4 separate regions of the Homo sapiens genome follow, and regions 1, 3 and 4 are each reported to be linked to region 2. The links are microRNA targets in miRTarBase. Many come from high-throughput screens and were not tested one by one. Region 2 holds a microRNA gene; each other region holds the end of a gene's coding sequence.
Evidence for each region. Region 2 holds the annotated microRNA hsa-miR-4460 (AUAGUGGUUGUGAAUUUACCUU, at 4,601-4,622, opposite strand). A microRNA usually pairs through its seed, bases 2 to 8, with sites in the 3' UTR of a target mRNA and lowers its output. Matches are read on the target gene's strand: a 7mer-m8 pairs with bases 2 to 8, a 7mer-A1 pairs with bases 2 to 7 and ends in A, and an 8mer does both.

Region 1: miRTarBase lists SIRPA as a target of hsa-miR-4460. Seed matches in the 3' UTR shown: 7mer-m8 at 1,871-1,877.
Region 3: the mRNA of TIMELESS is a reported target of hsa-miR-4460. Seed matches in the 3' UTR shown: 7mer-A1 at 2,026-2,032.
Region 4: the mRNA of SYNPO2L is a reported target of hsa-miR-4460. Seed matches in the 3' UTR shown: 7mer-A1 at 2,019-2,025.

Annotation. Positions count from the first base shown.
Region 1 is chr20:1,936,137-1,944,251 of GRCh38, forward strand. It overlaps SIRPA (signal regulatory protein alpha), which reads left to right. Exons shown (of 8, transcript NM_001040023.2): 8 at 1,184-4,456. The coding sequence ends at 1,432. Among named protein-coding and RNA genes, the nearest start is that of PDYN-AS1, 7.0 kb to the right of the region's middle. RefSeq lists enhancers at 932-1,486, 1,487-2,039, 3,553-4,054, 4,055-4,554.
Region 2 is chr5:129,392,515-129,400,629 of GRCh38, forward strand. MIR4460 (microRNA 4460) reads right to left here and starts at 4,633; the gene lies at 4,548-4,633. It overlaps LOC102723654 (a long non-coding RNA gene), which reads left to right. Exons shown (of 8, transcript XR_001742463.2): 8 at 137-1,414. RefSeq lists an enhancer at 5,589-6,577.
Region 3 is chr12:56,410,819-56,418,933 of GRCh38, reverse strand. TIMELESS (timeless circadian regulator) reads left to right here. Exons shown (of 29, transcript NM_003920.5): 27 at 575-800; 28 at 926-1,027; 29 at 1,148-2,571. The coding sequence ends at 1,218. Among named protein-coding and RNA genes, the nearest start is that of TIMELESS, 35 kb to the left of the region's middle.
Region 4 is chr10:73,639,914-73,648,028 of GRCh38, reverse strand. SYNPO2L (synaptopodin 2 like) reads left to right here. Exons shown (of 4, transcript NM_001114133.3): 4 at 1-3,143. The coding sequence ends at 1,311. It overlaps MYOZ1 (myozenin 1), which reads left to right and starts at 6,555. Exons shown (of 6, transcript NM_021245.4): 1 at 6,555-6,618; 2 at 7,994-8,084. The coding sequence starts at 8,012. RefSeq lists enhancers at 1-318, 3,882-3,931.

The DNA.
Region 1 (8,115 bases), not on the chromosome of region 2:
GTGCACCAACTAGGAGGTGTGCCGGTTGGTGGTAGCTTTATTCTGTTCTATCACGCAGGGGCCAGTCACAGAGGGAGCAAAGTTTATCATTCATGATGGGCGCTTTTGAGGCGGCAGTGGCAGGTTGATAGGATTAGCACATGGGAGGTATCCAAGTTTGCTAAGTGGTTAATGATTGCGAACATTTATTGAAGACAGATGCTCAATAGGTACCAGGCTCTGTTCTAAACGCTTTACCTGGATAATCTCATTCCATCCTCACAGCAACCCTGGCAGTAGACACTATTATCATCCCCTCTTTACAGATGGAGAAACTGAGGCCCAGAGAGGTTAAGTGAATTGCTCAAAATCCCTGAGCTAGAACCAGGATTCAAACCCAGGCTTTCTGACTCCAGAACGTTTCCCGCTTCACTAACTGGCGATCTCGTTCTTATACTGCCCCTGTTCTCTGTCTCCCTGTCCCCAGCTTTGCCCTGAGTGAAGGTGAAATTATTGCCATCCACTCATATATTCATTCAATATGGATCAGACTTCTTATGTGCCAGCCTTGGTTTCTGAATCATAACAAATGCCCAGTGAATATTTGTGGAATAAACGCATACATTAATGAATGTCCCCACACGTACCACCATCAGCAGCACCTCCTCAGGCCCCCAAACAGACATGGTCCTGGGTAGCGGGCCCTGTGATGGAAAACAAACATGGGCTGAGGAAGCACAAAGAAGGAACATGGACCCTGCCAGGAGAGGGGAGAGCCAGGGAGGGTCTTAGTATGAGCCATGCTTCATCTGAAATTTACATGGTGGATTGGGATTTGTTACAAGGAGAAGCAGGACAGACACCCTCGAGGGATGAACATGAGAAATGGGTGAAGACTGCAGGTGGTTCAGGCTAGGAGGAGGCAGGAACGGGAGGAGGTGACACTGAGGCGGGGCTGTGAGGAGACTGCACTGTGCGGGTCAGAAAGACCCTTCAGGCAGGGTGAGGAGGAGGGCAGATGGGAAGGGGCAAGGCTGGAGGCAAGTAACGTTGGCAAGAGATGAGGGGAACATGACTTATGGCTGAGCCAGTGTGGGCCGAGAGGACACAGAAGCATCCAGACTTGGTATTCAGTTTGAGTGAGTGGGCCAGGGGCTATAGAATGACCTTCTCATGACTTTCTCTTTGGGTATCTTAAATCCAGGACACAAATGATATCACATATGCAGACCTGAACCTGCCCAAGGGGAAGAAGCCTGCTCCCCAGGCTGCGGAGCCCAACAACCACACGGAGTATGCCAGCATTCAGACCAGCCCGCAGCCCGCGTCGGAGGACACCCTCACCTATGCTGACCTGGACATGGTCCACCTCAACCGGACCCCCAAGCAGCCGGCCCCCAAGCCTGAGCCGTCCTTCTCAGAGTACGCCAGCGTCCAGGTCCCGAGGAAGTGAATGGGACCGTGGTTTGCTCTAGCACCCATCTCTACGCGCTTTCTTGTCCCACAGGGAGCCGCCGTGATGAGCACAGCCAACCCAGTTCCCGGAGGGCTGGGGCGGTGCAGGCTCTGGGACCCAGGGGCCAGGGTGGCTCTTCTCTCCCCACCCCTCCTTGGCTCTCCAGCACTTCCTGGGCAGCCACGGCCCCCTCCCCCCACATTGCCACATACCTGGAGGCTGACGTTGCCAAACCAGCCAGGGAACCAACCTGGGAAGTGGCCAGAACTGCCTGGGGTCCAAGAACTCTTGTGCCTCCGTCCATCACCATGTGGGTTTTGAAGACCCTCGACTGCCTCCCCGATGCTCCGAAGCCTGATCTTCCAGGGTGGGGAGGAGAAAATCCCACCTCCCCTGACCTCCACCACCTCCACCACCACCACCACCACCACCACCACCACTACCACCACCACCCAACTGGGGCTAGAGTGGGGAAGATTTCCCCTTTAGATCAAACTGCCCCTTCCATGGAAAAGCTGGAAAAAAACTCTGGAACCCATATCCAGGCTTGGTGAGGTTGCTGCCAACAGTCCTGGCCTCCCCCATCCCTAGGCTAAAGAGCCATGAGTCCTGGAGGAGGAGAGGACCCCTCCCAAAGGACTGGAGACAAAACCCTCTGCTTCCTTGGGTCCCTCCAAGACTCCCTGGGGCCCAACTGTGTTGCTCCACCCGGACCCATCTCTCCCTTCTAGACCTGAGCTTGCCCCTCCAGCTAGCACTAAGCAACATCTCGCTGTGGACGCCTGTAAATTACTGAGAAATGTGAAACGTGCAATCTTGAAACTGAGGTGTTAGAAAACTTGATCTGTGGTGTTTTGTTTTGTTTTTTTTCTTAAAACAACAGCAACGTGATCTTGGCTGTCTGTCATGTGTTGAAGTCCATGGTTGGGTCTTGTGAAGTCTGAGGTTTAACAGTTTGTTGTCCTGGAGGGATTTTCTTACAGCGAAGACTTGAGTTCCTCCAAGTCCCAGAACCCCAAGAATGGGCAAGAAGGATCAGGTCAGCCACTCCCTGGAGACACAGCCTTCTGGCTGGGACTGACTTGGCCATGTTCTCAGCTGAGCCACGCGGCTGGTAGTGCAGCCTTCTGTGACCCCGCTGTGGTAAGTCCAGCCTGCCCAGGGCTGCTGAGGGCTGCCTCTTGACAGTGCAGTCTTATCGAGACCCAATGCCTCAGTCTGCTCATCCGTAAAGTGGGGATAGTGAAGATGACACCCCTCCCCACCACCTCTCATAAGCACTTTAGGAACACACAGAGGGTAGGGATAGTGGCCCTGGCCGTCTATCCTACCCCTTTAGTGACCGCCCCCATCCCGGCTTTCTGAGCTGATCCTTGAAGAAGAAATCTTCCATTTCTGCTCTCAAACCCTACTGGGATCAAACTGGAATAAATTGAAGACAGCCAGGGGGATGGTGCAGCTGTGAAGCTCGGGCTGATTCCCCCTCTGTCCCAGAAGGTTGGCCAGAGGGTGTGACCCAGTTACCCTTTAACCCCCACCCTTCCAGTCGGGTGTGAGGGCCTGACCGGGCCCAGGGCAAGCAGATGTCGCAAGCCCTATTTATTCAGTCTTCACTATAACTCTTAGAGTTGAGACGCTAATGTTCATGACTCCTGGCCTTGGGATGCCCAAGGGATTTCTGGCTCAGGCTGTAAAAGTAGCTGAGCCATCCTGCCCATTCCTGGAGGTCCTACAGGTGAAACTGCAGGAGCTCAGCATAGACCCAGCTCTCTGGGGGATGGTCACCTGGTGATTTCAATGATGGCATCCAGGAATTAGCTGAGCCAACAGACCATGTGGACAGCTTTGGCCAGAGCTCCCGTGTGGCATCTGGGAGCCACAGTGACCCAGCCACCTGGCTCAGGCTAGTTCCAAATTCCAAAAGATTGGCTTGTAAACCTTCGTCTCCCTCTCTTTTACCCAGAGACAGCACATACGTGTGCACACGCATGCACACACACATTCAGTATTTTAAAAGAATGTTTTCTTGGTGCCATTTTCATTTTATTTTATTTTTTAATTCTTGGAGGGGGAAATAAGGGAATAAGGCCAAGGAAGATGTATAGCTTTAGCTTTAGCCTGGCAACCTGGAGAATCCACATACCTTGTGTATTGAACCCCAGGAAAAGGAAGAGGTCGAACCAACCCTGCGGAAGGAGCATGGTTTCAGGAGTTTATTTTAAGACTGCTGGGAAGGAAACAGGCCCCATTTTGTATATAGTTGCAACTTAAACTTTTTGGCTTGCAAAATATTTTTGTAATAAAGATTTCTGGGTAATAATGAGTCCTTCCGGTGTTCAGTATTCTTGTCTTTGTGAGTGCGTCCCGGGGCCGCCTCGGGGCCTGCCTGCCCTCCTGCCAAAGCCTGGAAGAGGATTGAATGGACCCCAGGGTTTGGAAACAACCTACAGCATTTGAGCCCCTCACGTAGGTTTTAGAGACGTACAATTTTTGTTTGCCCTGGCTCAGAAGGAGCCGGTGTAAGGTTGAGATAAAATTCCATATAGACAACTGAGTTTGGATCTCGGCTCTGCTGCTTTGTAGCTGTGGGAGTTCAAACAGCACCTCTTTGAGACTTGGGCCCCGCGTCGGCACAATGGGGCAGGAATAGTCCCTGCCAGGGTGACTGTGTGGATTCAAGGAGGTTGGAAGCACTGAGCCCACGCTTGGCACTGGGTAGGCCATCACTGAGGCTTGTGTCTTTCCTTCCTGCCCTGACCCTGCATAGCTGAGTCTCGTGGCCTCTCACCACTGATGGGATCTCGGACACCCGGCTCACCCTCCTCCTGGGGCCTCACTTTCCTTCCCCACCAAATGCAGACATCTAATGCTTGTCCTGTAATATCCTTGCCAGATGACTGATGTCAAGTGCTGGTTTATAGTGGGTGCTCAATAAATGTTAGTTTCCTTTCTATCCCTCCATTAGATCATTAATGATATTAGTGCTAATTATGTAATAAAGTTAAGGCATAAATATGTTAATATTTAGTGGTTACTATGTGTCAACGCTTTACCTTGATGAATTCTTAAACCTTGTGACTCAAGGGCAATTATGTTACTGACTGTAGATGACACAGAGAGAGGGTGCAACTTACACAGGTTCACACAGCTAATGAGTGATGTTACTGAGCCTCCAGTTCCAACTGGATAACTGTAGTGCCTGATGCTTAGCCACTGGGTTAATAATCAATACGTCATGTATGGACCACTGACTGCAAAATTAACCACCATGATAGCTAATAACAGCTATGCCAAGTGTGCTGCCGCGTGCTTCACAGTTAGAACTCATTTCCTTCTCCCAGCTACATGAGGGAGGAACTCTTGTTCTCTGTGCTTTGCAGATAAGGAAACTGAGACACGGAGAAGTCATTTCTCCAATGTCCCATGGCAGAGCAGTTTGAAGCCAGGGAATCTGACTCTTCTCCCCCACACTGTACTTACTGCCTCATTTAATTCTCATGACTATCAGATCGCTGTGGTTGTGCCCATTTTGCAAAGAAGGAAAGATGAGGTTCTGGAAGTGCATGTGACATGACCAATCTCACGCAGAGTCTTTAGTCAAGTTGAGACTTGAACTCAGATCCACAAGCCCACTGGGGATCATCCCTACACCCTTGGCCTGGTCCATGTGATCAGAGACCACCTGAACCAAGGAGCCTTCTGCGGGGCTCAGAGAGGTCACCCTCCTCTCAGGCCAGGACCTTGGCTGTAACAGACAGCTCAGCAGTTTCCTGGCCCGTGGCCTGAGTTCAGCTCTCCGCCTCCCTCCGGGAGCAACCCATGAAATATGTGCACTGCTTGCAGGAATGGGGTGTTCAAGGCATGAATCCAGGCCGAGTGGGTGGGGAAATGCCTTCCATTCTCTGGGAAGGTGGGGGATGATGGACTGCGTGTCCAGACAAGGAGACTTGGTGGGTGTATTTCATGCAGCACCTGGGCCTTGCTTCTCCACGGCCAAATCTCCAGGGCTGGAGGCTGGCAGGCGAAATGAAAGTTGATGGGAGCTAAGTGGCCCTTTTCCAGCCCTCCAGGAAATCAGTCAAGCATTTGGCATTTATCGGACACCTCCTTGGGGTTCCTCCTGGTGCAAAGGAGAATGCTAAGACTCCCTTCCTCCATGAGGACCAGGCCAGAGTCCTCTGCCTTCCACCTGAAGCCCCTGCCCATTTTACGTGATAATCAGGAAAATCTCCACTGGCCCCCAACCCCAAGATTTGAATGCCCAACTGTAAAAGCCCATGTGTCTTCTAGCACATTTCCAACAGCCAAGTTTTGACGAAGGTTTATTTAATTTTGGCATAAACACATACTACATATTAGACACTCTCCTAAACTCTGGACAAGTATTTATTAAAATTAATTCACTTTATTCTCTTAACAAACCTATGAGTTAGGTACTATGATTATCCCCCACTTAATAAAGAAATGGAAACACAGAGAGATTAAGCATTTTGCTCCAAGGTCGCCATCCGGGAAGTGACGCCACTGTGGGTATGGTCTAGTCCAGCACTGAATGGGCATATGATGGGGGCTGGGGCTGATAGTGAGAAAGTGGGGGGCATAGATAATGTTCAGGATACACTGGACACTGTCAGTAGCCAGAAACACCACATCTCACCACCAAAGTGTCAGAACATCAGGGTGATATGGCTGCCTGGCTGCTCACCAGCCAGCCGAGGCACCCTTGAGCCTGCCACTGCTGGGATCCCCGACACCACCCCGCTTCACCACCCTCTTCACTGTGCCTGACCAGGCTCTTGGTTTCTTTTCTGAATACAAGATTATGACATTGAAGATGCTTTTTAAGAAGACGTGCTCCTGATGTTCAAAAACAGGCAAAACCTTGGCAACAGAGATCAGAAGAGTGGCTGCCCTTGGAGGGAGGACCAGGAGAAGCCTGGGGTGGCACATGCTCTACGTCTTCCTGAGTCGTGGTTATCTGGGAGGTTGCATATGTAAAAACCTTTCCAGCTGCACATTTAAGATGGGTGCATTTCCCTGTATATAAGTTATGCCTTGAATTTTTTAAAAGATAGATGCCCAGCCCTGTCCCCCTCAACCTTTGATGCCTGCCCCTCCCCACCCCCGGCCAATCTATTTTTTAAAGTTAGTGTCAACACCTTATCTTCGGTAGCTGAACCCAGCCCAGGGCCTGGCCCCAGTGAGGGGCCCAAGGAGTGTCGCTGAGTTCATTGGAAAGATGAACATCCCCGTGATCAAAACAGCACAGAAAACAGTGAAAGATGCTAAACAGCACAAAGATTAAGGATGGCTACAAGCATAAGCCATTATCTGTTATCACTTCATCTCCTGAGATTCCTTCCATCACTTTTCCTCCTCCTCCACCCATTGGAATCGGATACAACTGCACCCCAGAGTCCTTGCCCTGTGACCTTGGGCAAAGAGATTCACCACTGGGCCTCTGCTTTGTCACCTGTGAAACAGGGATAGTAGCAGCCTTCACCTCCGGGGGTTCTTGCGAGAGTTCGATGAGAAAGTAGATTTAAGACTCTTTGCAGCAGTGTGGTGCAGACAGCAGTCGACATATGCACAGAAACACACACACATTCACACCCACACACTCACATATCAGGCCAGGTTATTAGAGCATCGCTGCAATGGTGGGTCTTCTGACGAATAATTTTATCAAGTCCCTCTCTTTCTCATTAGCCTGAGATAGGTCTCTCTTACCAACCTTTCGGGTATGGGGTGCAACACCCCAGCTTGGTTTTCGGAGTCCTCTGCCTTATACCACCACCTGACCTGTTTAAGAACATTTCCTGCTCCTCCCCAGCCCCTGCTGGACTCCTTGGCCAGGTTGATTTTCCTCTCCCAAGAAATACTATATAGCAACTCCTTTGACTTCCCTAGCCCCACCATGAGTCATTCCTCCAGTGACTTGGTGTCCTCTTGACCAGACATGAGCTCCCAAACCAGAACTTCACGCTCTACCTTTGGGATTCAGCCCCTAGGATAAGGGAGACTAAAGCCTACCATGTGCCACGCTGGACTCTGGACACTCGAATTCTTTACTTCATGGAACCTTCACATTCTTTACAAATGGAATGTCAATTTCACAGGGAAGAAAATTGAGGCTCAGAGAGGTGGAGAGGTAATAAGTTCAAGATCTTTCAACTAGTAATTATTTCTCAAGCTCCTACTGGAACCTGGCCCTGTGCAAAGTTCTGAGGACACAATGTGGACAAAAAATGGACCACACCCATATGAGCTCATATATGAGGGAACCAGAGCCACTGGCAATCCCAGTGCAGGGATGAGCGCTGCTGAGAAGGGCGTGACAAACATGACGTACAAGTGCAGAATTAACACACTAATGAGTGAGCCAGCAGTGGGGCAAGAGCTGGTTCCAAGAGTAAATGGGCACTTAGAGGCTTTGAAAAAGGAAGGTGAGAATAACATTTTCAAGTTAGAGATCAATCCGGTTAATGTCCCACAAGGCAATAAGGCCATATCTTTGGAGATATTTTTTTTCTGCCAGACAGAAGCCATTTGCACCCACCAGACAAAAGTCTACAAATTAGCCCCAATCTGGGCCTTAATCAAATAGGAAAGACAAACTCAGGTATATTCTTCTACAGAACTAACTAATCCTTCAGTGGGGCTTTTAAACCGTGCCCCAG
Region 2 (8,115 bases):
TGTAATTCCAGATGAAGCTCAGTTTTTATATCAGCCATTTTTTAAGAAAGAGAACTATACTCTGGATCCTCGAGTGAAAGTGTTAGGCTTAAGTAATTTAGTCTTTTTTTTCTCCTAAATGTGCTTGCTTCATTAGGTTTCAGAAGAAACTACCTTAATGAAGAAACAGAAGGGAAAGACGTGAAAACCTCCAGAGTTCTTCAGAAAGGCTTCCTTTGCATAGAATCGTTCATCAATTTCAACAGTAACAGAAAGTAACGGAAACGTGATCTGAATGAGTAGCTGAAAATTGAGTAGTAACTTAACACTCCATTGAAGTTTTTCATCAGATATGGGGCACAGCTTGACCCTCGTATTATAAATATTTAAATGCTTTGGATATTTTGCCAAAGTTTAAGCATTTCTTCCCAAAGGAACAGTGGTGATATAATGTGAGTCATGCTAAAGTACTTAACCATCAGTGGGCAGATTTTGTGGCATGAATTTTTGTAATGATTTTAAGTAAGACCCGGTATATTCACAAATATCCAAAACTTTATTTAGAACTGTATGGGAAGCTATTCTATCTAAAAGCTCATTCTTATTAAAAGTATTTTTTCAGGAAATAAAATGATGTTAAACCTGGAAGTCTCCAGCAAAGAGACTGATTTTTTTTTAGATGCTCCCAACTCAGTAAATTTTGCTTTCCTATTTTCTTATTTTTGTACGTATGCCACTGATGTCTAGCTTATACACTTCTGTTATATTTACAGCTGTTTACAACCATTGAACCAAAAGTTCTATACCTGTTGAATGTCTAAAAGTAGAGAAAATTAATTGAAAAGCAATAGGTTAAGAATCAACCTGTGGTCCCAAGAAAAAGAAGTAAAATCCTATAAAATTCTTAAAGCATTTCCTCTATAAATATTTGAAAGTTATTTAATCTTTTGGTCTTTATAGTGCCTGGATTGACATTCTGCATTAACTATGGAATCATTTTTATAAGGAATATTTTGTGATTTGTATAAGAAAAAGTATTTCTCAATGGCATAGGAAGAGCTTTGCTAACTCTTAGAAGAAAGAGGGAAGAGAAGAGGGAAGGAAACAAGTAAAACGAACTGGTGGTACATCGTGTATTAAGAGATAATACAAGGATATCATACTATAATGTTTTCAGACAAAAATTATGGACAGGCTAATTCGTGAAATAAGATGAAGACCTAAAAGGTAGCAATGATCCTATACACTATACTCTGTAACAGTTGTTTTCAAACTGCTTTTTAAACATAAAAACAATTTTAAATCCACTATTTTAGCACATTCTGGTCTTATATAGTAATTACATGGCTATATTTTTCCAGTGTGACATATTTAAAATACATATCATTAAATTTCTGGTTAATCTTAAACATGGAAATAAAGTACGAAATTTCTAGTTGTTGAAGTATGTTTAAAATAAAATATATTAAAATATCATTATTTCAGTCAATAATTTAAAGTAAATGGGGGTATATTTGTGTACGTACATATATGCATATATGTGTGAATGCACAGAAATACAAACATGTCTATATAAGGATCTATACTGCTCTAAATTTTTAAAACACAGAAGAAAAAAAAACTAAGATGTATTTTTATGACTTTTTAGTCAACTATAGGGAATTCTTCAATTGTCCAGAACTCCTTCCTCTTTTTAAGGCCAAAGGATCATTACCTTCTTTTATCCACATTAAAAAAGAAAATCAACTTAATCTCTAAATGAATATTAAATTGATTTCCTCTTAAAGCTGACATCTGTTTAACATAAGCTAATTCCAGAGGGCTAAAAGAATTATAAGCCAAAAATGAAACCCTAAGTCTCCCCAGGTGGCTGAACAGACTCGCTCTGTGCCAAGGGAACCTCAGAGAAACCTGAAAAACTGAATTCCTACCCATGACTAGAAGGGACATCAGACATGCCTCATTATATCCCATTCCTTTGGAGTTAGTACAAAATTGACCAACATTAACATTAAAACAGAGGTCGGCTGGGCGCAGTGGCTCATGCCCGTAATCCCAGCATTTTGAGAGGCCGAGGCTGGCGGATCACGAGGTCAGGAGATCCTGGATAACACGGTGAAACCCCGTCTTAACTAAAAACTCAAAAAATTAGCCGGGCGTGGTGGCAGGTGCCTGTAGTCCCAGCTACTCGGAGGGCTGAGGCAGGAGAATGGCGTGAACCCGGGAGGCGGAGCTTGCATGAGCCGAGATCACGCCACTGCACTCTAGCCTGGGTGTCAGAGCGAGACTCCATCTCAAAAAAACAACAACAAAAAAACCGTACGACTGACCGAACAAACTCGAGCTTGATGCTGGTATAGCTTCATGTGACAAATAGCATACTCTGAATAAATTTGAAATATTTTACCCCAAAATATTTCTTTGACATATTTTGAAATGGCCCTGGGAGAAATTTTTATCTGTACAGAATTACCATTCATGTAGCCAGACCTGTCATGGATCTAGGAGAGATTAAGAGTGTGATACCGGCGGGGGAAAGGGGCTTATCTCAGCACTTTGGGAGACTGAGGTGGGGGAATCACCAGGTCAGGAGTTCGAGACCAGCCTGACCAACATGGTGAAACCCTGTCTTTACAAAAAATACAAAAAATTAGCTAAGTGTGGTGGCAGGTACCTGTAATCCCAGCTACTTGGGAGGCTGAGGCAGGAGATTGCTTGAACCTGAGAGGTGGAGATTGCAGTGAGCCAAGATCGCGCCACTGCACTCCAGCCCAGGCGACAGTGCAAGACTCAGTCTCAAAAATAAATAAATAAAAAATAAGAGTGTGATACCTTTTAAGGTGTGAAAATAGACATTTGCCATCTATTATCTCTAAAGGCTCTCTCTTCTCTCTAAAGCCTACAACCTAGAGGCTTCATCTACATAACAAAGATCTTAGCTTCCACAACCCCCCTTATCTTAGCTCAGGCATTTCTTTCTATGACTTCAAGTCTTTAGACAAAGCTTAACTGTCAACCAATTGCCGATGAGAAAATCTTTGAATCCACGTATAACCTGTAGGCCCCCACTTTGAGATGTCCTGCTTTTCTGGGCTAAACCAATGCGTATCTTACATGTATTGATTTATATCTTTGCCTATCACTCCTATCTCCCTAAAATGTATAGAATCAAACTGTAATCCAACTGCCTCAGGCACACTTTCTCAGGACCTCTTGAGATCACTCATATTGGCTCAGAATAAGCCTCTTTAAATATTTTAGAGTTTGTCAACAAAATTAAAAGAGCAAAGAACTGTATGTGTGGTAAGAAATCTCTTCCCTGTTTTTCTATATTTTTGAATTGACTTCTCCAAGTATGTTGCAGAGTACCTGTCCCATATGTAAAGCCACGATGGTTAGCAGTAGCTCTAACGTACTGCTATGACCCAGGGTCATCCAAGTGTCTCAATTTTTATTTTCTTAGCTTTTTAAAATTGTTACCTACTGCATTCCAGAGTGTTCTTAGAGTTAACTCACAGAAATAAGCATTTAAAAATTTCCCATGCATTATCATGGCTCAAGATATTATCATAAATCTTTTTGCCTTATTATTATTGTATTGTCTTACATATCCTTACTTCCCTATTTACTCCTGGAGTTTGAGTAAACTCCAGGTTCCAAAGTTGTTATTATCCCTCTACTGTCACAAAATCAGAGTGTCCAATTCTAGTTGCTGTAACTTCACCTATTTTCCAGATATCACCACAAACAGATCTTTTGTCCAGAAGGAACAGGTATAGAGAAACAGAGGCACTTCTATAAAATAGATAACCGTATTATCCCATTTTGTCACAAATCAGCCACATGTAGCCACTTGGTGTGCAGCAGTCTCAACTAAGTTGTCATTGTACTTATCATCTAGAAGCATGTCAGTCCAACATGAGAAGCCAGGTAACCAAACCAGAATTAAATTTAAATTCCTTAGGTACTCTTTTGGCCAGACTACCATCTGGAGATTGTACCAACCAACTGGGTCTGGGGTTGCTGTTAGGGGAAAGAGAAAATCATCATATCCAGAAATAGATCAGAATCTTGAACATCCCAAATAAATTAATAAAACCCTCATTTCTTCCTGATTTTTTTTTTAGCCAGGAAGTGGCCAGAGGAGATTATCCCTTTTTGTAAACAGCCACATTAAGTAAACAAACTGCTTTATGAAACTATGAGGATCAGTAGAAAGTGAGAGAGGTAGAGTCAGAAATCTTTTTGAGTTGATATTTAAAACCTGTTCCAATGTTCAAGAATCCCAGATACCAGTAGGTGGTAGAGGAGAATGGGGAATCCACTGAATGATTTGACGGCCAGGCCATTGTTGAGCTGCCTTTGCAGTAAAACACGCATTATTAAAGCAAAAGGTCAAGAAAGCCAAAAATATGACACAAGATTAGCTTCAAGAACCTCAATGCTGTGTCTGCAGTTAGCTGATTAGACAGGAACAGGAACAGCAATGTTGTTGCCTAAAACTGGGGTCAACACTGGTGAGACAACGCAGCAAACCTCTATCCAGCAAGGTTCTGAAGATTCACCTGGTTTCTGCCCACAGTGGTTGTGAATTTACCTCCTTTATCACTGCAAAGAGGAGAAGGTAAATTCACAACCACTATGGGCAAAAAACAGTGCCTCTCTGTGAGAGTTGTCTGTTAATTCTTATCAAGGTGAATCAGAAGAGATGACAACATTCGTTTGTTTATCTCTTCTTCATAGTGTCATGGTACCTTTGACATTATTCAGTGTCTTAAACCAGAGAATGTCTAATGTTGGAATTTTAAGTAGGGCAGAAAATCTACATATTTGCTCTACCAAGTGTATTAGTCTGTTCTCACACTGCTATAAAGAACTGCTTGAGACTGGGTAATTTATAAAGAAAAGAGGTTTGACTCACAGTTCCACATGGCTAGGGAGGCCTCAGGAAGTTTGCAATCATGGCAGAAGGGGAAGCAGGCACGTCTTACATGCCAGCAGGTAAGAGAACATGTGAACCAAGCAAAGGGGGAAGAGCCCCTTACAAAACCGTCATACCTTGTCATACCTTGTGAGAACTTACTATCATGAGAAGGGCATGGGGGAAACTGACGCCGACCTCCCCCACCCCACCCATGATCCAAACACCTCCCACCACGTCCCTCCCTCAACACCTGGGGATTACAATTAGAGATGAGATTTGGGTAGGGGCACAAAGCCAAACTGTATCACCACAGTACTGTCAAATAATGACAAGTTTGCAACCGTTTCTATGTGGGGCCAATTATGATAGAAAATGTTACTGCCTTTGCTGCTTTATCTGATAAGTATAAGCAATAGTATCACCATTTGTCATAATAATACACAGACTGAACATTTGTAAGATACTTCACATTTTACAAAGCAACTTTCATGTTACGATTTTATCCACCTTCTTAAACACCCCAAAGGAAGGTAATATTTCTTCTAACAAATGAAAATATGTGGCTTATTCATTATTCAACCTCAAAGCAGCAAAACCAACATAGAAACTGGGGTCTTTGATACAGAAATCTGGTGTTTGTGCAGAGCTGTCATTAAAGCTTTCCTCCTAGAAGGAAAGTATGACTAAGGTCTTTTGTTTTGTATATGTTGAGATCTTGCCATGCAGCTTGTAAATGTTCACAAAAAGCATGGGGAGTTTTGATACTTAATTACAAGATTGGGTCAACTAATATAAAGCCCTGGATTCTCAAGTTCTCATTAGATACTTTTGATGTTGGAGGTTATTGTGTGTGCCAGTGGATGCAGAAGGTTGATTTGGCCCAGCCTGTCATTCCCCCCTCAAGCCCCCCAATTACCTGGATGATGTATTGGTAGAATAGGCAATGCTACTGAAGAATTCTTTCATCTGAGAGTGAAGATGAAAACAAACCAACACATTCTCCCTGCATTGTTCACTAGCTTTTTGTTTTATCCTCCTAAGGTTTGATGTTTGATAATGAATAAATTAGGATAAAATGTGAATGCACCCTCTGTAAGGACCCAGCGGGAAACATTGGCTGTTGAGCCAGATCTCAATCAGCAAATGAAAGGGGTTCATTTTGGCATCAAGACCAGGCCTGTGAAGTCTGCATATTTAGAAGAAATTCAAGATGAAAAAGGAAATATGTGTGCATGATGTTTATGTGTATGCAAGAGAGATAGACTTAGAAAAGTTTCAATTTTATGGAAACATCACAAACGAGATAAGCAACTTAATTTCCTTATTATATAATTTATATATAAAAAATTCATCATTTCACTATTGTTGATTAAAGTGGCATATTTTACTAGCGCACATAATGTTTTACCATTTGGAGGCTGAACATCTTTTGAAACTCATACACATCTGTAAAATACCTACATCGTTGGCATAAACTGTTGCTCATCTTCATGGAGACAACTTGAGCCTGATTTAAAAAAATTGTATGGAAACTGGTTTTATATGGAATAACATGAACAGTCATGAAATTGGTGTTAATACTTCTTCTTCTTTAGTATGATATTTAGATCTGCTTCTCTCTTCCTGGTCTATATGCATTCCTTCTTTCAAAGGTTGTGATATATTGTTATTCTAAGGACAGTGCCCTAAGGAATTTAATTACATTAATTTAAAGCCAGGATCTGAGGCTAACAGCACTCATACCTCAGATAGTATGTGGTCTGATGCTGTTACCTTTCTCCTCATACCTGCCCTCCACAAAGAGCTGTCACATGACTTTGGCACCTCCCAATTCTTCCCCCTGTCACTCAGCTTTTAGACAGAAGCTGGCTTTTTTCTGTAGTCCTTTCTTCACCTAGCGCATGCCTGAAGCCTGGAAGCTTTGCTGCAGGCTTAAATTCTTAAGTATGTAAGAGGTTATAGCCATTCGAGGAAAAATACCAAATAGGCAAATATGTTTTTCTGGCATGTTCTCCCTCTTCCCATATTATTTCAGACTCTAGGACCTGCTACGAAATGAGCCTTGAGGAAAGGATGTGCTGCTGGTGGGCAGACACTCATTTTTTATATATACACTCATTTTTTGTATGTATGCATTACCTGTTACTTCTTCTGGGCTCATTTAAACAGTGAACTCTCTTTTAATTGTATCACTTCAAACTGAATTTCTAAATGAAAAAAATCTGAGAGTCTAGCTAGCATGTTAGATGGATATTTTGGGTGGCAAAGACACTTTCCCAAATAACCTATCACAGATGATGTCTCATGCAACACTTGTATGTAATATGCAATGAAGACATTGTTCCTTTGGAAAGTAACTCAAGATCTTGTACCCTGAGGCTGCTACTGTAGTTTTGTTTCAGGCCTTGAATACACAGCCTTAAGTCTTGTCCTCATTTATTTTATGTGATAAGTGACCTGGCTCGAAGCAGGATCAACTCATTTTTAAATAGAGGCAAAAAGGAACATATAGAGAAATATACGTGGCAGGTTCATTACATTATATGGACATCACAACAATAACATTTTTTTCTTTCAATCTGTAATTAGATAAATTTTCTCTTTTGAAAACATGAAAAAGGAAGATGTAGATAAGGCAGCTAACTTTTGAAATAGCCTGGTCAAATGACATTTTAAAAAGAAATTAAGGTTTTTCTATTCCTTTGAGAAAATTTTTATACTTAAGAATTTTAATAATTAGGATTTCTTAAAGGGACAGGAAATGTAACACAAGATATAATGCTATGTATTATACATTCAGTGAGATTAAAAATACACTGAATTAAAAGTACTTTTCTTTTGTGTTATATCTGACTGTGATTGACATTCAATATATTTACTTAAATTTTTCCCTTGACCTCTTTTCTTCTCATTTCCTTTTTCTTTATGACTATAAAGCTGAGATTTTTATCTGTTAATTAGTAGCTTAAACTTCTGATGTTAGAGTTGCCTGGGGCAAGCAAACATAAATGGTTAAGTATTACATTCCTACCATATAATTAACTGACTTTCCATATGTGAAAAAAGAAATGGGAGAAAGGGAGGGAAGGGAGAGAAAGAATGGAAAGGTGTTACAGGAAAAGTATCCATCAAAGGAAAATGTATTATATTACTAAATAAGTTGTATTTCTTTATAATATCACTAGGTGGCATATAACTGACTCGAACAAAAA
Region 3 (8,115 bases), not on the chromosome of region 2:
TCATACCTGATTCACCTTTACATCCCCAGGATTTATTTATTTATTTATTTATTCAATTGACAACTATAGCCAGGTGTAGTGGCTCATGCCTGTAATCCCAGCACTTTGGGAGGCTGAGGTGGGAGGATCGTTTGAGACTGGCCTGGGCAACACAGCAAGACCCTGTCTCTACAAAAAATTTTAAGTAGTTGGGCATCATGGTGGCATGCACCCCTGTGGTCCTGGCTACTTGAGAGGCTGAGGCAGGAGGATAGCTTGATCCCAAGAGATCGAGACTACAGTGGACCATGATTGTGCCACTGCACTTCAGCCTGAGTGACAGAGGCAGACCCCTTCTCATTTAAAAAAAAAAAAAAAAAAAGAACAACCAAAAAAACCTATAACTGGGAACCTCCTAATGTAGCAGGCACTGTGCTAGGCACTGGGTATATATTAGATAGTAAGTATTATAATAAATAGAGTTCACAACCCTTGTGGATCTTCACCAATATTGGGTCATATATATTCAATGAATATCATACTCTGGGAAACAAAAAGCTGGTCCTTTCCCTTTTCAACTTTTTGGCCCCTGTAGGAAACCTTCTGGCGAATTCCAGCCAAGCTGAGTCCTACCCAGCTCCGGAGGGCAGCAGCTTCTTTGAGTCAACCAGAGGAGGAACAGAAGCTGCAGCCAGAGCTGCAGCCTAAAGTCCCTGGAGAGCAAGGCTCTGATGAGGAGCACTGTAAAGAGCACCGAGCACAAGCCCTGAGGGCCCTCTTGCTAGCCCACAAGAAGAAAGCGGGCCTGGCATCCCCAGAGGGTAATAGTGCGACAGCCATCTTCTGAGTATTAACGTGTCAGCCATGTTGGTCTAGAGGGCAGGAAAGGTGTTCTGAGAATATGAGGACCGAGTTCCTAATTTTGTGTCATTTATGGTCATTGCAGAGGAAGACGCTGTTGGTAAAGAGCCGCTGAAGGCAGCACCCAAGAAACGACAATTGCTGGACAGCGACGAGGAACAGGAAGAAGATGAGGGCAGGAACAGAGGTAGGGAATTTGATGGGACCTTCTTTTTCTTCTCTAATCCTGAAGACAAACTCTACCACGTCCTTACCCCTTAACATATTTAGATATTCTCTCTCTCTCTCACCCCCATCGTTCCCACAGCACCAGAGTTGGGAGCTCCAGGAATCCAAAAGAAGAAACGATACCAGATTGAGGATGATGAGGATGACTGAAGAGCTAAGAAGCCTAGGGGTAGAGATAGACACGTTTTTAGATGGTGCATTCAAGTCAGAGTTGGAAGGGTCATACAGGACCCAGAAGCTCCTCTTACTGGACAGAGCAGTAGAATCCCAGGCTCTTTCACGGATTTAGGCTGAGAAACTTCAGCAGCAGTATTGGACTTCTCTGCTGTCAGTCTTTGTTTCTCCCAGTTTTTATCGGTATGCCCCAGCAGCTCTCTGGAGATTTAGTTCTCTTCTTCTAGGAACCATTTCTTTTGGTTATTGGAGCTCCTTAGCAAATAAGAGGAGTGAGTGAAATAGAGAAAGCACCCCGGACCCCTTTTATTGGTCTGTTCCTTTGGCTTTCTCTTGGAGGTGGGTCGCAGCACCAGATGGGGAGCTTTATGACATGACAGGCGGGAGTTTTGTACCACTTTTAGAAGATACCAGATGCCTCTGTCCTCATTTTGTTTCCTATGATCATCCTCTAGATACCAGATAGAGGCCCATTCCTGCATTTGAGATAGGGTTGGAATATAGTACTCTAGATGATGAATGTGTTTGCTTTGTGTTTGGTATTAAACATGTAAGATTAGAAGTTCTCATCTCAGTCTGACTTGGCGATATGTCTAAGTTCCCCAGCCCTTCCCCTGCTGTGCTCTTGAAAGAAGAACTTAACAATTTTAGGGTAAAAAGAGACCAACAGACCGGCACAGTGGCTCAAACCTGTTGTCCTAGCACTTTGGGAGGCTGAGGCGGGCGGATCACCTGAGGTCAGGAGTTTGAGACCGGCCTGGACAATATGGCGAAATCCCATCTCCACTAAAAATACAAAAATTAGCCGGCCATGGTGGCATGCGCCTGTAATCCCAGCCACTCGGGTGGCTGAGGCAGGAGAATTGCCTGAACCCAGGAGGCAGAGGTTGCAGTGAGCTAAGGTCACGCCAGTGCATATGCCTGGGCGACAGAGCAAGACTCTGTCTCAAAAAAAAAGAAAAAAAAAAAAGACCAACAACCTTCCCTTTTCTTCCGCTTTCCCTACAGAAGACACAGAAAAGCATTTTTGCCTCTAGATCCTTTTGTCTAGGGTAAATTCTTAGGGTGACAAGAGTATGCGGCAGGAAGAAGGAGGAGCCATAAAGGAAGAGAAGCCAGCTTGTTGGCATGGGGCATAGAAAAGGACAAAATCTAGGCATGAAAAGGATGGATAAATACTGCAAATATTATGTTCTTACCCATTCTTGGAAACGTCAGCTTTCTTGCTTCCTGTGCTTCCAGCCGAGGTAGGGCAAAGGTGAGATTGAGAAAATAGCCATTCAGCTCAGGAAGGCTTCTAAGTAAAGGATGGATTTGGATTGCCCTGTTGCTTTGACTTTTCATTTTTATTTTTTCCTGAAAAGATGAGGATCTCCCATAGCCTCTAAAAGTGGGAGTGAAGCTATTTCCATGGTAATTGAAGTTTCCAAGGGCTAGACACTTTCTAGCTCTGGCCAGTCTTGGTGTCTCTTCATCCTGAGCTTTTCTTCACTTCGCAACCTGAGCACTGCTTCCTTCCAGCAGGGCTGCTCTGTTTTCCCTCCATGATCCGGGCTGTGCTGCTCCTTTGCTGTGTCCTGCTGTCCCCAGTATCTGCCTTTTTTTTTTTTTTTTTTTTTGGAGACGAAGTCTCGCTCTGTCACCCAGGCTGGAGTGTGGCAGCATGATCTCGGCTCGCTGCAGCCTCTGCCTGCCAGGTTCAAGTGATTCTCTTGCCTCGGCTTCCCAAGTAGCTGAAATTACAGGTACGAGCCACCACGCCCCGCAAATTTTTTGTATTTTTAGTAGAGACAGGATTTCACCACGTTGGCCAGGCTGGTCTTGAACTCCTGACCGAAGGTGATCCGCCTGCCTTGGCCTCCCAAAGTGCTGGGATTACAAGCGTGAGCCACCGTGCTCGGCCTAGCAGCTGCCTTTTTTTTTTTTTTTTTTCTTTTTTGTGATGGAATCTCACTCTGTCACCCGGGCTGGAGTGCAGTGGCGCAGTATCAGTTCACTGCAACCTCTGGCTCCTGGGTTCAAACAATTCTCCTGCCTCAGCCTCCTGAGTAGCTGGGATTACAAGCATGCACCACCACACCTGGCTAATTTTTGTATTTTTAGTAAAGATGGGGGTTCATCATGTTGACCAGGCTGGTCTGGAACTCCTGACCTCAAATGATCCTCCCACCTCAGCCTCCCAAAGTGCTTGAGCCACCGCATGAGCCGGTGGCGTGATTACAGGCATGAGCCACCGCATCCGGCCGTGGCTGCCTTTCTAAGAAATGTCCAGAACTGGACCCTGACTTTCCATCCCTCTTTGAAATTTCCAGCTCCAGTTTCTTCTAGCAGTGTTTATCAGTATAGAAAATTTACTATGTATTGGCCGGGCATGGTGGCTCACACCTGTAATCCCAGCACTTTGGGAGGCCGAGATGGGAGAATGACAAGGTCAGGAGATCGAGACACTGGCTAACACGGTGAAACCCCATCTCTACTAAAAATATAAAAAATAGCCAGGCATGGTGGCGGGCACCTGTAGCCCAGCTACTCAGGAGACTGAGGCAGGAGAATGGCGTGAACCCAAGAGGCAGAGGTTGCAGTGAGCTGAGATCGCACCACTGCACTCCAGCCTGGGTGACAGAGCGAGACTCCGTCTCAAAAAAAGAAAAAAAAAAAAGAAAATTTACTATTTATTAGGCACAAGAGGTATTTTTGTCCTTTTCCGTTTATTTACCCTTTGGAAATTTTTAAATGAGAAGAGGAGTAAAAAGCTATTTCTTACATATTTGAATCACAGCCGTCTGATTTCTCCTTATTCTGGGTCTCTTGGATTAAGCTGGGAATGTGGGAGCAAGAGGTAGATACTGCTTTTGCGGCATTTCTGACACCTAAACAAGCTCTGATTAGTCAGTACATATCAATTCAGGTATAGATTGGGAGAACCTATAGATCACGATGACAGTCACACATGTATGAAAGGGAGAAAGAGAAAAATTACAGTGCTACTCAGAAAATCTTGGCCAAGTTGATACAGAGCCCCAGAATGAAGATTACATGACTGAGGAGTCCCATGTCTGGCCGACTTGGCTGGGCTCTAGCACTGTCCACCTGTCATTGTCTCAGAGCAGCCTGTAGAGAGGGATGCTGCTGTGATCACTGCAGAACATTCTAAAGAGTGGAAGCTGTCGGCCAAATAGAATGTTCACTCTGTGTTCTCTTGAAGGGAGATCTGAGCAGAACACCACAGGGCAAATAGGCAAATGTTTGCCAAAATTGTGCCCTTACTGACCTTAGAGACAAGCAACTGTCCCCTCTCATGAGACAGAGAACTGGGACTGGAATAACCTACCTGGGAAAGCCCACCTCTCACTGACTACCCTCTGGTAATTTGGTGCTCTCAAATATTTAAGTAGAAAGTGAAGCAGAGGAAGGCCCTGGTGACCAGGGAATAGGAGAAGTCAAATAAGATCAGTGCGGTACCATTTCCTATGTAACTGGGCTTTAACCTAAAATGAACACAAGCCTGGAGGTAATGGGTGAGTGAAACGGTCTGTTTTCTAACTCCCACTTCAGCTGATCATTTACTGCTACATGTTGCACACACTCTGGCTGCCATTTCATATGGAACCCAAACTAAGGCCCTGATGTCCCTTGCTTCGTATTTGCAGAGCCCTGGTTCTGCCAGACCTGGCTTCCAAAGTTCCTGCCTGGTGTCTTCCATATGTCCTCTCTACCCAGGATCTAGTAGGCCCGGCACTAAGGAAAGCCCTGGAGCAGGCTGACTCCTAAACTTGATGCCAGGCCCTGAAGATTTGGCTATACAGGGTGGGATGTGTGAAAGCCACATAGTCCCATACACACCAGCTCCAAGGATTCTGGAATTTCAGTGGCATAAGGAGGAGCATGCCAGGTGATACCATGGCCTCTGTTCTGCAGGTGTTAAGACGGGCTTCAATCAGACCCAGGAAAAGCCAGATGTGTCTTTCCCACTGAGTACTGTGAGCAGGGGCAGGAATATCCTGAGCACAATGTGTTCCAGTTTTTGCCAGGAGTGGGAACCTACTCCTGGCAGTGGCAGCCCATCTGGAGTGGTCACTGCAAAGACGCCAGCTGCGGCTGGGGAGGTGTGGTGAGGGCTGCATGCTCCACAGAACCAGGGAGAGCCAGGAACAGGCAGGAGCCCCGCCCCCTTTCAAGTTGGCGGGTCCCCACCCTCCTGGGTGCAGCTACAGCAGCACAGCCACAGCTGTGGATCCAGGCATCCCTATGCTCTTAGGGGCCTACGAAGCCTCACTGCCCCCGCAGACTCAGAAGTGCATGCTCCCACTGCCTAGCCTCTTCCCACTCTGTTTTTAGAGCAAAGTTGAGGCCAAGCCCAGCACTGTTGTGACCTGGCCATGTGTGCACACCCTCCTGGCGGTGCTGACACACCAGCCCCCTGCCACCTTGGCCCCCTCTAAACTTTGTACACTGACAAGCATGGGAGAGGGGCTGAGGGGGAGCCAAGGGTGACTTGGCAGGGGTCTGCAAGTGCCCCTCAGCAGGAACAGCTTGGGTCCCGTGGATGACATTATTGATGGTGGCAGAAGGCAGGCTCCTGGGTGGAAAGGTGCAGGTCCAGTGAAGTACCACCTTTAAGCCAGGGACAGCCTGAAGCCTGGGTGCCGGACTGTCACTTCTGGGTGGAGTCCATCGCCCAGAATGAGAACTCATGATGCTTATTCTGGGCCATCCATGGCCCAATCAGCATGCACTTCCTCCCTTCTGAAGCCCATGAAAACCTTGGACTCAGCCACTCACAGAGACATTGAATCGACCTGCATGTGGAAAGGAGCTACTCACTGCCAGTCTCCTGAGGGCTGCTGTGTCGCTCAATGAAGCTCCTCTCTGCCCTGCCCTCCAGTTGTCTGTGTACCTCATTCTTCCTGGATATGGACAAGAACTCAGGACCCAAGGAATGGTGGAACTGAAAGAGCTGTAACACAAACAGGGCTGAAACACGCCTGCCGCCCCCCCCCGCCCGGCCCTGTCACTCCACTGCTTGCCACTATGTGGGCGACTAGAAGAAGAGAAGAGCTGTGGCTCTTTGAGAAGCCCAGACCCAGGGGCTCCCAGAGCCAGGGCTATGACACCCTCTTTGGGGCTCTGTGGTTCCTGGTGTCTCCAAGCTCCCAGGTGCCACCGCATTCCCTGGTGCCTGCAGTGGAAGCTGCTTGCAGTATGTCTGGTCCAGCCACAACCTCACATGGAGCCGGTGCCTGGAGCTCCCTGTCTGCTGCAGCCGGCATGCCTGGCTGTGCACAGTGTGGCCAGACCCCATGCTCACACACCCCTTGCTGCTGCACATCTGGTTCACCCATGGCAGGCATGGAATCCAGGCCAGTAGCACAAGCAGAGCACAGCCTGCCAGGCCAAGTGGGTGGAACAAACACAGTGAGCCCGAGCAACACTTGGGCAAAGGCACCACTGGCCACAGAGGTTTCCAGCTGGAAAAGTGACATCCCAAGAATCCCATGACACTACTATAAACTGGCACAGCTTTGTACTATGCTGCTCAGATAGAACTGGTCAGACAAGGCCAATGGGTCAGAGGTAGTTCTCTCTGCTAGAGGTGAGTCTCGCTGAAGAGCCATAGCTTAGAACCTGGGGCTGGGAGTTTTGTGCTATAAGAAAATTGGATAGGAATAGAAGGGATGAATTCTAATTTTTTGGCAAGCTGTATATGTGGTGTTCAGAATCCAAAATAAACATCACCTGATATCCACAGGATACACAATGATGAAAAATACAATGATTAAAAAACGTGCTGGCCAGATGTGGTGGCTCATGCCAATAATGCCAGTACTTTGAGGGGCTGAGGTGGGAGTATCCCTTTACCCCAGGAGTTTGAGACCAGCCTGGGCAACATAATGGGATCTTGTCTCCACAAAGAATTTCAAACATCAGCCAGACATGTTGGCTGAGGCAGGAGGATCTCTTGAGCCCTGGAGTTTGAGGTTACAGTGAGCTATGATTGTGTCACTGCACTCCAGCCTGAGCAATAGAGCAACACCCTGTCTCTTAACCAAAAAAAAAAAAAAAAAAAAAAAACAATTATTTTAAATGTGTTGAGGTTTCTTCTATGGCCCAGATATGGTATACCTTGGTGAGTGTTCTATAGGTACTTGAGAATGTGCATTCTGCTGTTGGAGTATTCTATAAATGTCAATTAGATGGGTTGATGATATTGTTAAGTTCTTCTATATTCTTGCTGACTTTGTACGTAGTAAGTCTATCAGTTGTTGAAAGAAGCGTGTTAAAGTCACCAACTATAATATTGGATTTATCTATTTTTTTCTTTTAGTTCTGTTATTATTATTTTTAAATAGAGACTGGGTTTCTCTTTGTCACCTAGGCTACAGTGTGGTGATGTGATCATAGCTCACTGCAGCCTCAAACTCCTGGGCTCAAGCTATCCTCCCATCTCAGCCTCCCAAGTAGCAGGACTACAGGCACCCATGCCTGGCTAATTTTTAATTTTTAAATTTTTGTTTATGTTTGTAGAGATGGGATCTCACCATCTTGCTCAGGCTAGTCTTGTACTCCTGGGCTCAAATGATCCTCCTGCCTTAGCCTCCCAAAGTGCTGGTGGTGGCAGAGGCTGCTGCCATCATGCCAACTGTGCAGCTGGGGCTGCAAACTCCATGGAGCCATTGGGAACCCTGTCCCTTCTGAGTTGGGATGGGAGCTCCTGGGGTGCCGCTGCAGCTGCCTAAACTGCAGCTGCAGATCCAGGCCTCCTGCTCTATGAAGCAGGCAGGACCCCCACCCTCCTGGGCTGGGCTACAGCCACCCAAACCGCAGCTGTAGACTGGAGCCTCTCTGTGCTGTTGTGGGAGGGCCAGGAGCAAG
Region 4 (8,115 bases), not on the chromosome of region 2:
GGCCCTGTGACAGCCACCAGCTCCCTGTACATCCCAGCCCCTAGTCGGCCTGTCACCCCAGGTGGAGCTCCAGAGCCCCCCGCTCCTCCTAGCGCAGCTGCCATGACCTCCACCGCTTCTATCTTCCTATCTGCGCCTTTGCGACCCTCTGCGCGCCCAGAGGCGCCTGCCCCAGGCCCAGGGGCTCCTGAGCCCCCCAGCGCTCGCGAGCAGCGCATCTCTGTGCCAGCTGCCCGCACGGGTATCCTGCAGGAGGCCCGGCGCCGGGGGACCCGGAAGCAGATGTTCCGGCCGGGAAAGGAGGAGACGAAGAACTCGCCCAACCCCGAGCTGCTATCGCTGGTACAGAACCTGGATGAAAAGCCTCGGGCCGGGGGTGCAGAATCTGGTCCTGAAGAAGATGCTCTGAGCCTCGGGGCTGAAGCCTGCAACTTCATGCAGCCAGTAGGGGCCAGGAGTTACAAGACCCTGCCTCACGTGACACCTAAGACCCCCCCTCCAATGGCTCCCAAGACCCCGCCCCCTATGACTCCTAAGACTCCACCCCCAGTGGCTCCTAAGCCCCCATCTCGAGGGCTCCTTGATGGGCTCGTGAATGGGGCAGCCTCTTCGGCTGGAATCCCTGAGCCACCAAGGCTGCAGGGCAGGGGTGGGGAGCTGTTTGCTAAGCGGCAGAGCCGTGCGGACAGGTATGTGGTGGAAGGTACACCTGGTCCTGGTCTTGGCCCTCGGCCTAGAAGTCCTTCTCCTACCCCGTCTCTGCCCCCTTCCTGGAAATATTCACCCAACATCCGTGCCCCGCCTCCTATTGCTTACAACCCACTGCTCTCTCCCTTTTTCCCCCAGGCGGCCCGAACTCTCCCTAAGGCCCAATCCCAGGGGCCTCGGGCAACACCCAAGCAGGGCATCAAGGCTCTAGATTTTATGCGGCATCAGCCCTATCAACTTAAAACTGCCATGTTCTGTTTTGATGAGGTTCCCCCGACTCCTGGCCCTATCGCCTCAGGGTCCCCCAAAACTGCCCGAGTCCAGGAGATTCGCCGGTTTTCCACTCCGGCACCCCAGCCCACTGCAGAACCCCTGGCTCCCACTGTGCTTGCCCCCCGAGCAGCCACTACACTGGATGAGCCCATCTGGAGAACAGAACTGGCCTCAGCCCCTGTTCCTAGCCCAGCCCCTCCTCCAGAGGCTCCCAGGGGCCTTGGGGCTTCTCCCAGCTCCTGCGGTTTCCAGGTAGCCAGGCCCCGATTTTCAGCCACCAGAACAGGATTGCAAGCTCATGTGTGGAGGCCTGGGGCAGGGCACCAGTGAACAGGCACAGGTCCCAGGACCAAGGAGAGGTGGAACATCCAGTTCCTAAAGTTGCTTCTCCTACCCTATCCCATCCCCTGTCACGCATCTGGAAGCTAAATTGCCTCCTGCCAGAGATGGTTTCCAAGTTGATGTCCCCTTCCCCCACCTTCCTCCTCACTCTCTACCTCCCTGCCGCTTTCCAACCAAGTATGTCTGCTTTGGTATCTTTGCCTCTCTTTGTCTCTGCATTTCCTTTCCTGGATCTCTGTCTTTATTTCCAGGCTTCTCCACCCATATTCCTCCACAGATCTCTCTTCCTTGACATTTGTGCTTTTCTCCCTGGGCCTCATTTTAATGTTCAGTGAGAAGTAAACAGAGCAGAAGTGACCACTGGGACTTCAGGCAAGAAGCTCACCACCAGGCACACAGCAAAGGGACTGAACTGACCCCTGTTTGCACTAAGCCACCCCCACCCCCCACTCTGCTTTCCCAAGCTTGACTGGCATATACCTAGGCCTGTGTGTGTGTGTGTGTGTGTGTGTGTGTGTGTGTGTGTGCTCTTCCGTCTAAGGCATGAATAAGAGGGGAGGTCAAAATAAAGACCCAATCTGAGGCCGGGCACGGTGGCTCACGCCGGTAATCCCAGCACTTTGGGAGGCCGAGGCGGGCGGATCACGAGGTCAGGAGATCGAGACCATCCTGGCTAACACGGTGAAACCCCATTTCCACTAAAAATACAAAAAATTAGCTGGGCGTGGTGGCGAGCGCCTGTAGTCCCAGCTACTCGGGAGGCTGAGGCAGGAGAATGGCATGAACCTGGAAGGCGGAGCTTGCAGTGAGCTGAGATTGCGCCACTGCACTCCAGCCTGGGCGACGGAGCGAGACTCTGTCTCAAAACAAACAAACAAACAAAAGACCCAATCTGAGTCTTATCGTTGTACTGATAGAAGGGTCAGATATCCCCACATGGAGTTGAGTGGGAGAAAGAGATTCACTAGAGAATAACTCCTTAGAGACCAATGTCTGTAGCAGGTGTACAGCATCTTGTGAAAGTTATGGAGCATGAAAAGACTGAAGGGCCAGGACAGTTTGCATGGGCTGAGTTATACCAGCTAGACCAGGAATAGAACAAAGAATTCTATACCTCAGGATTTCAAAAAGTTAGCAACTTGAGAGGCCAGTGCTGAGCAACCCAGTACCCAGGAAATGAAAAAAAGAAAGAAAATTCCCTCCGAGAATGAACAAATCATTGGCTTCATTGCCTCATGAGCTTGAGAGAAAGGAGAAGAGAGCCAGAGTGTGGCAAGTGAGGCCAAAATCAGAAGCATGGCAGAAATGAGTGTAAGTGATTGAGCCACAGACAGAAGTGTGGCGAGGGACAATGCCATATTGGGAGAAGGTAAAGTTGAGTAACAAGAAACCAACCGTGTGTGAGAGGGGGATTGGAAAAAAATTTGAGGGAGAAGAATGTTAGAATGGAAGGGAATGATGGTGGAAGGGAGGTGTGAGGGTGTGTGCTGAGTGTTGAAAGAACGGTTGGTGTCTGTGTGATTTTCCTTGAGTCTGTTCTTCAGTGTGTCTTCTGCAGCTTGCCATGACTGCCTGGGAAAGAGTAGGGAAATACCCAGAGCCAAAACCTCCTTTCAGTCCCACCCCATCCCTCAAAACCCCAGCTATTGCTTCTTTTCAGCTTCAGGTCCTGATCTCCAATCTTAGTATGGACTCCCTTCTCACCAAGACCACCACCAGCTACGTTTGCTGTGTAATCTGGAAAGTGATAATTTCCTTTGCTTGTTGGGTGTGAGTCACAATACTTTGGTTTGTGCACAAGAATAAATTTATGCCCCATACCTTCTGTTGCTGTTATCTTCTAGTTTTATTCCTAAATCCTGATCTCTCCTTAATCTTCTTTAACCCATTCCCCTGATCTGATTTCTGATCTGTCTCTTTTCCTGCCCTCCCATTTTTCATCCTTTTGCCCTTTGTTCCCAGGTCTTTTGCTCTTTTATACAAATTCTGTCCTGCTTTGATTTAGCCACCTCCATCACTCTTCTTGGTTCCCTCTCCCCACAGTCTTCATCCAAGTTCTCCCCTTTCCCTCCCTTGCCTCATACTTTCTAGGTAAGGCTTCAGTTCACAGAACTCAGAGAAGTTGGAAAGGCCCTCTGAGCCCTTTGCTATCAACATTTCCTCGCTCCTTAGAGGAAGCAACCATATTAAACAGTCTCTGGGAAGTAAATGAAGAGAAAGCAATGGCTGGAGGGCTGGAGGGGAAGGTGGGATGGGAGAGGGAAGAATAAAGCTGAATTGAGACTACTAAAGAAGGGAGGGCGTTGGAGGTAGGTGAGAATTAGACTTCAGAGAAGGAAAGTGCCATTGCTCTGATTCTGCCAGCAGAGGGCACATTTGTGCCAATAATCAGACCCAGGCCGCAGACTCTTCCAAGTGCACTGTCTTAGAATTCCAAAAAAAGATCTCAGAGACCATAGGTTAAATAGCCTGTCTTCACCCACTCAGTCGTTTTGGGTACTCAGTTGAAGGAGATCAAACTTTCAGTTTGTTTTTGTTTTTGAGGGTGAGGGTGGTAGTGATGATGAAGTCACCTTTAGCTATTTATAGTTCTTCTTTTTTTTTGAGATGGAGTCTCCCTCTGTGGCTCAGGCTGGAGTGCAGTGGTGCGATCTCAGCTCACTGCAACCTCTGCCTCCTGGGTTCAAGTGATTCTCCTGCCTCAGCCTCCCAAGTAGCTGGGATTACAGGCACGCACCGCCATGCCTGACTAGTTTTTGTATTTTTAGTAGAGACTGGGTTTCACCATGTTGGCCAGGCTGGTCTTGAACTCCTGACCTCAAGTGATCCACCCACCTCGGCCTCCCAAAGTGCTGTGATTACAGGCATGAGCCACCACGCCCGGCCTATTTTATCTTCTAATTGCTTCCTTGGGTTGGGAGGGGATGGAGGAGGACAAAAGATGAGGGGTCTGGAGGCATAACTAGCCTGGGCAGAAGCCAACTGTGAGGGGATACCTTTTAGGGTCTCCACAGGATGGAAAAAGGACATGGTCAGGAAGAGTAAAGAGCTCAGAAGGGGACAAAGGAAGTTACAAAAGCCACTTCCTGGTGCGTGCCTGTAGTCCCAGCTACTCAGAGGCTGAGGTAGGAGGATCACTTGTGCCCAGGTGTTCAAGTCCAGCCTGGGCAACATAGTGAGACCCCCATCTCTAAAATAAAGAAAGAAATAATTTTTTAAAAAGCCAGCTAGGCACAGTGGCTCACGCCTATAATCCTAGCACTTTGGGAGGCTAAGACAGGAGGATTGCTTGAGCCCAGGTGTTTGAGACCAGCCTGGGAAACATAGTGAAACCCTGTCTCTACAAAACATATGAAAATTAGCTGGGCGTGGTGGCATGTACCAGCAGCCCTAGCTACCTGGGAGGCTGAGGTCGAAGGATTACCTGAGCCTGGGGAGGCTGAGGTTGCAGTGAGCCAAAATTGTGCCACTGCACTTCAGCACAGGCAACAGAGTGAGACCCTGTCTCAAATAAATAAATAAATAAATAAAGCCACTTCCTCAGGTAGCAGCAACAGGGTTGTGGTGGCTGCAGCAGAAGTGCTGCAGCAACTGGTTCCAGAATCTAAGCAGAAGGTGGAGGAAGATCATGCAGCTACTGAAGAAGGGCCTGGGGAAATGATAGGCTTTCCCCAAAGGGGCTTTCAAGCCTGTGGCCCTGCCCAGAGACTCCGCTGGAACAGTACAAATGGCACAGTCCAGATCCTATGTGGTATGTGCTCCCTTTGCAGGAAATCTCAAGTAGAAACCTCAGAGAGCCTGTAATCCCAGCACTTCGGGAGGCTGAGATGGATGGATCACGAGGTCAGGAGATCGAGACTATCCTGGCTAACACGGTGAAACCCCATCTCTACTAAAAATACAAAAAAAAATTTAGCCGGGCGTGTTGGTGGGCGCCTGTAGTCCCAGCTACTCGGGAGGCTGAGGCAGGAGAATGGCGTGAACCTGGGAGGTGGAGCTTGCAGTGAGCCGAGATTGCGCCACTGCACTCCAGCCTGGGCAACAGAGCGAGACTCCGTCTCAAAAAAAAAAAAAAAAAAGAAGAAGAAAAGAAACCTCAGAGAGCCTATATGTGCTTCTCAGGGAGACATCGATGTCTATCCCGCACAGCAGGTTGAACTGAGCATCTCAACAGCAAATGGAGGTTAAAAGGCAGATCCTGGCTGGGCGTGGTGGCTAGAGAATAACTCCTTAGAGACCAGATCCTGGCGGTGGCTCACGCCTGTAATTCCAACATTTTGCGAGGCCAATGTGGGTGGATCACCTGAGGTCAGGAGTTTGAGACCAGCCTGGCCAACGTGGTGAAACCCCGTCTCTACTAAAAATACAACAATTAGCCGGGCATGGTGGTGGACACCTGTAATCCCAGCTACTCAGTAGGCTGAGGCAGGAGAATTGCTTGAACCCAGGAGGTGGAGGTTGCAGTGAGCCGAGATCGCACCACTGCACTCCAGCCTGGGCAAAAAGAGCGAAACTCCATCTCAAAAAAAAAAAAAAAAAAATGCAGATCCAAGTGTTTGTCTTTTATTAAAACTGCCAGAGCTCAAGAGGAAAGAATAGGGAGTGAGGCAGACAGAATAATTGTCAAGTCTTCCCCACATCATTCCTTTGTAGGAGGTACTGGGTTTAGTTAATTTGGTCCCTTAACCTGCCAAGATCTAGCCCTTACCGAGAAAAGACCAACCTATCCAGGAACTTTAAAAGAGCAGTTCCACTGTGAAGACTTCCCTTTTTGTCCCCAAATATAGCACTTTAAGCCCTCCCTGCTCCAAATACACCCACAGGTCTCTCCACTCTGCCCTGGATTGGCTCTGTGTGGCCCTCAGGGCATGTTCCCCAGACTCTCTCTCTCTGACTGAATTCCTATCCAATACTTGCTGTCTACTTCCTGTCTCCCTCTCAGTCTTCAGTTTCTCCCTAAGTGCTTCTTTGGATCTCAGGCTCTAGGTGCAATGTGAAGGGGAGTCCCTGGGCAGACTGATCCCTGGCTCAGACAGTTCAGTGGGAGAATCCCAAAGGCCTTTTCCCTCCTTCCTGAGCCTCCGGGCAAGGAGGGAGGGATCTTGGTTCCAGGGTCTCAGTACCCCCTGTGCCATTTGAGCTGCTTGCGCTCATCATCTCTATTAATAACCAACTTCCCTCCCCCACTGCCAGTGCTGCCCCCACGCCTGCCCAGCTCGTGTTCTCCGGTCACAGCAGCTCAGTCCTCCAAAGCTGCTGGACCCCAGGGAGAGCTGACCACTGCCCGAGCAGCCGGTAAGTCTCCAGCTCTATCGTTAGAAAGGCTGGAGCCCACTGTGTTGACTTCTGTGTCTGTGTCTACAATTGTGATTCTTGATCCTGGGGGAGTCTCCCCTCTCCTCATCTATGCTCAGCTCCCAGCTGTCCAGTTGGAAGGAGAGGGGAAGGAGAGTTGGAAGGAGAGGGGCCCAGGAGGTTGGGGGGAATGGAGATGTCGGGGGAGGCACTGGAAGAATGGGAAGGGAGACCCCACTAAGTCAGTAGAGTTGCAGATGTATTTTTTGAGACAGGACTTAGAAGAGGACAGCATTTCACTGAGTGCCAACTTCTCTTAAGAAGGGATTGGAGTCCATCTTATCCCAGTTTGTCCCTTTCCATTGCCAGATCCTATTACTATGTTTCTGCCCCACCTCAATTCCCCACTGCTATGATATTGCTGAATTGACGTGTCGGGATTTGAATGCTCCCTACCCTTCCCAGTTCCACACCTGCCTCCACTCTGGGGTCTGTGGCGGGAGTGATTGCAGGAGCAGGGCCATGACTTCCCAGGCCATGTTCCAGCTGGCCTGATGAAGGAGCAACAACCTCTCCTTCCTATGGAGAGTGTTTTTGGCTGAATCTCCTCAACCCTGGCAGAATATTTCTCTGTCCTCCTGGGGACTGGGGGAAGACTGAGGAGAGACCAGAGCCTGGAATCACAGCCCCAGTCTGATATCCCAGTGCAAATAAAAACTTCAAATCATGCCAAGCCAATGAAACCTGGGTGCATTGCCCTGCTTGTGTTATTGTTTTTTAAACACTCCCCACACCTAGCTATGTTCCTAATTCCTGCACTGACTCTATGAAAAACAGCTCACAACAGGTTGGTAGACAACAGGGGCTGGTGTGCATCTATACTTCCTGTCCTGTATCCCAAGAAAAGAGAAGCCCTAAAGCGCAAGTTTTCACCTTTTGGGGAAATACATGCTTCTTTGAAAATCTGGGTCAGGTGAAGTGGCTCACCCCTGTAATCTCAGCACTTTGGGAGGCAGGAGGACTGCTTGAGCCCAGGAGTTTGAGACCAGCCTGGGCAACATGGCAAAACCACATTTCTACAAAAAATACAAAAATTAGCCAGGCACGGTGGTGCGCACCTATAGTCCCAGCTACTTGGGAGGCTGAAGTTGGAGGATCACCTGAGCCCAGGGAGGTTGAGGCTGCAGTGAGGCATGATTGTGCCATTGCACTCCAGCCTGGGCGACAGAGTGAGATCCTGTCTCTAAAAAAGAAAAAAAAATTTTTTTGTCCCCTCAAGCCCTTAAACCCAGGTTAAGAAGTGCTGCTCTCCTACAGACACTCACTCTTCCCAGTCCCTGTCCATCCACCAACTCCTCCTTCCCACCCTGTCCAGGCTGAATCCACCTCCACAATGCCGCTCTCAGGAACCCCGGCCCCTAATAAGAAGAGGAAATCCAGCAAGCTGATCATGGAACTCACTGGAGGTAGGACATGTTTGCATCTCCCTAGTGTGGG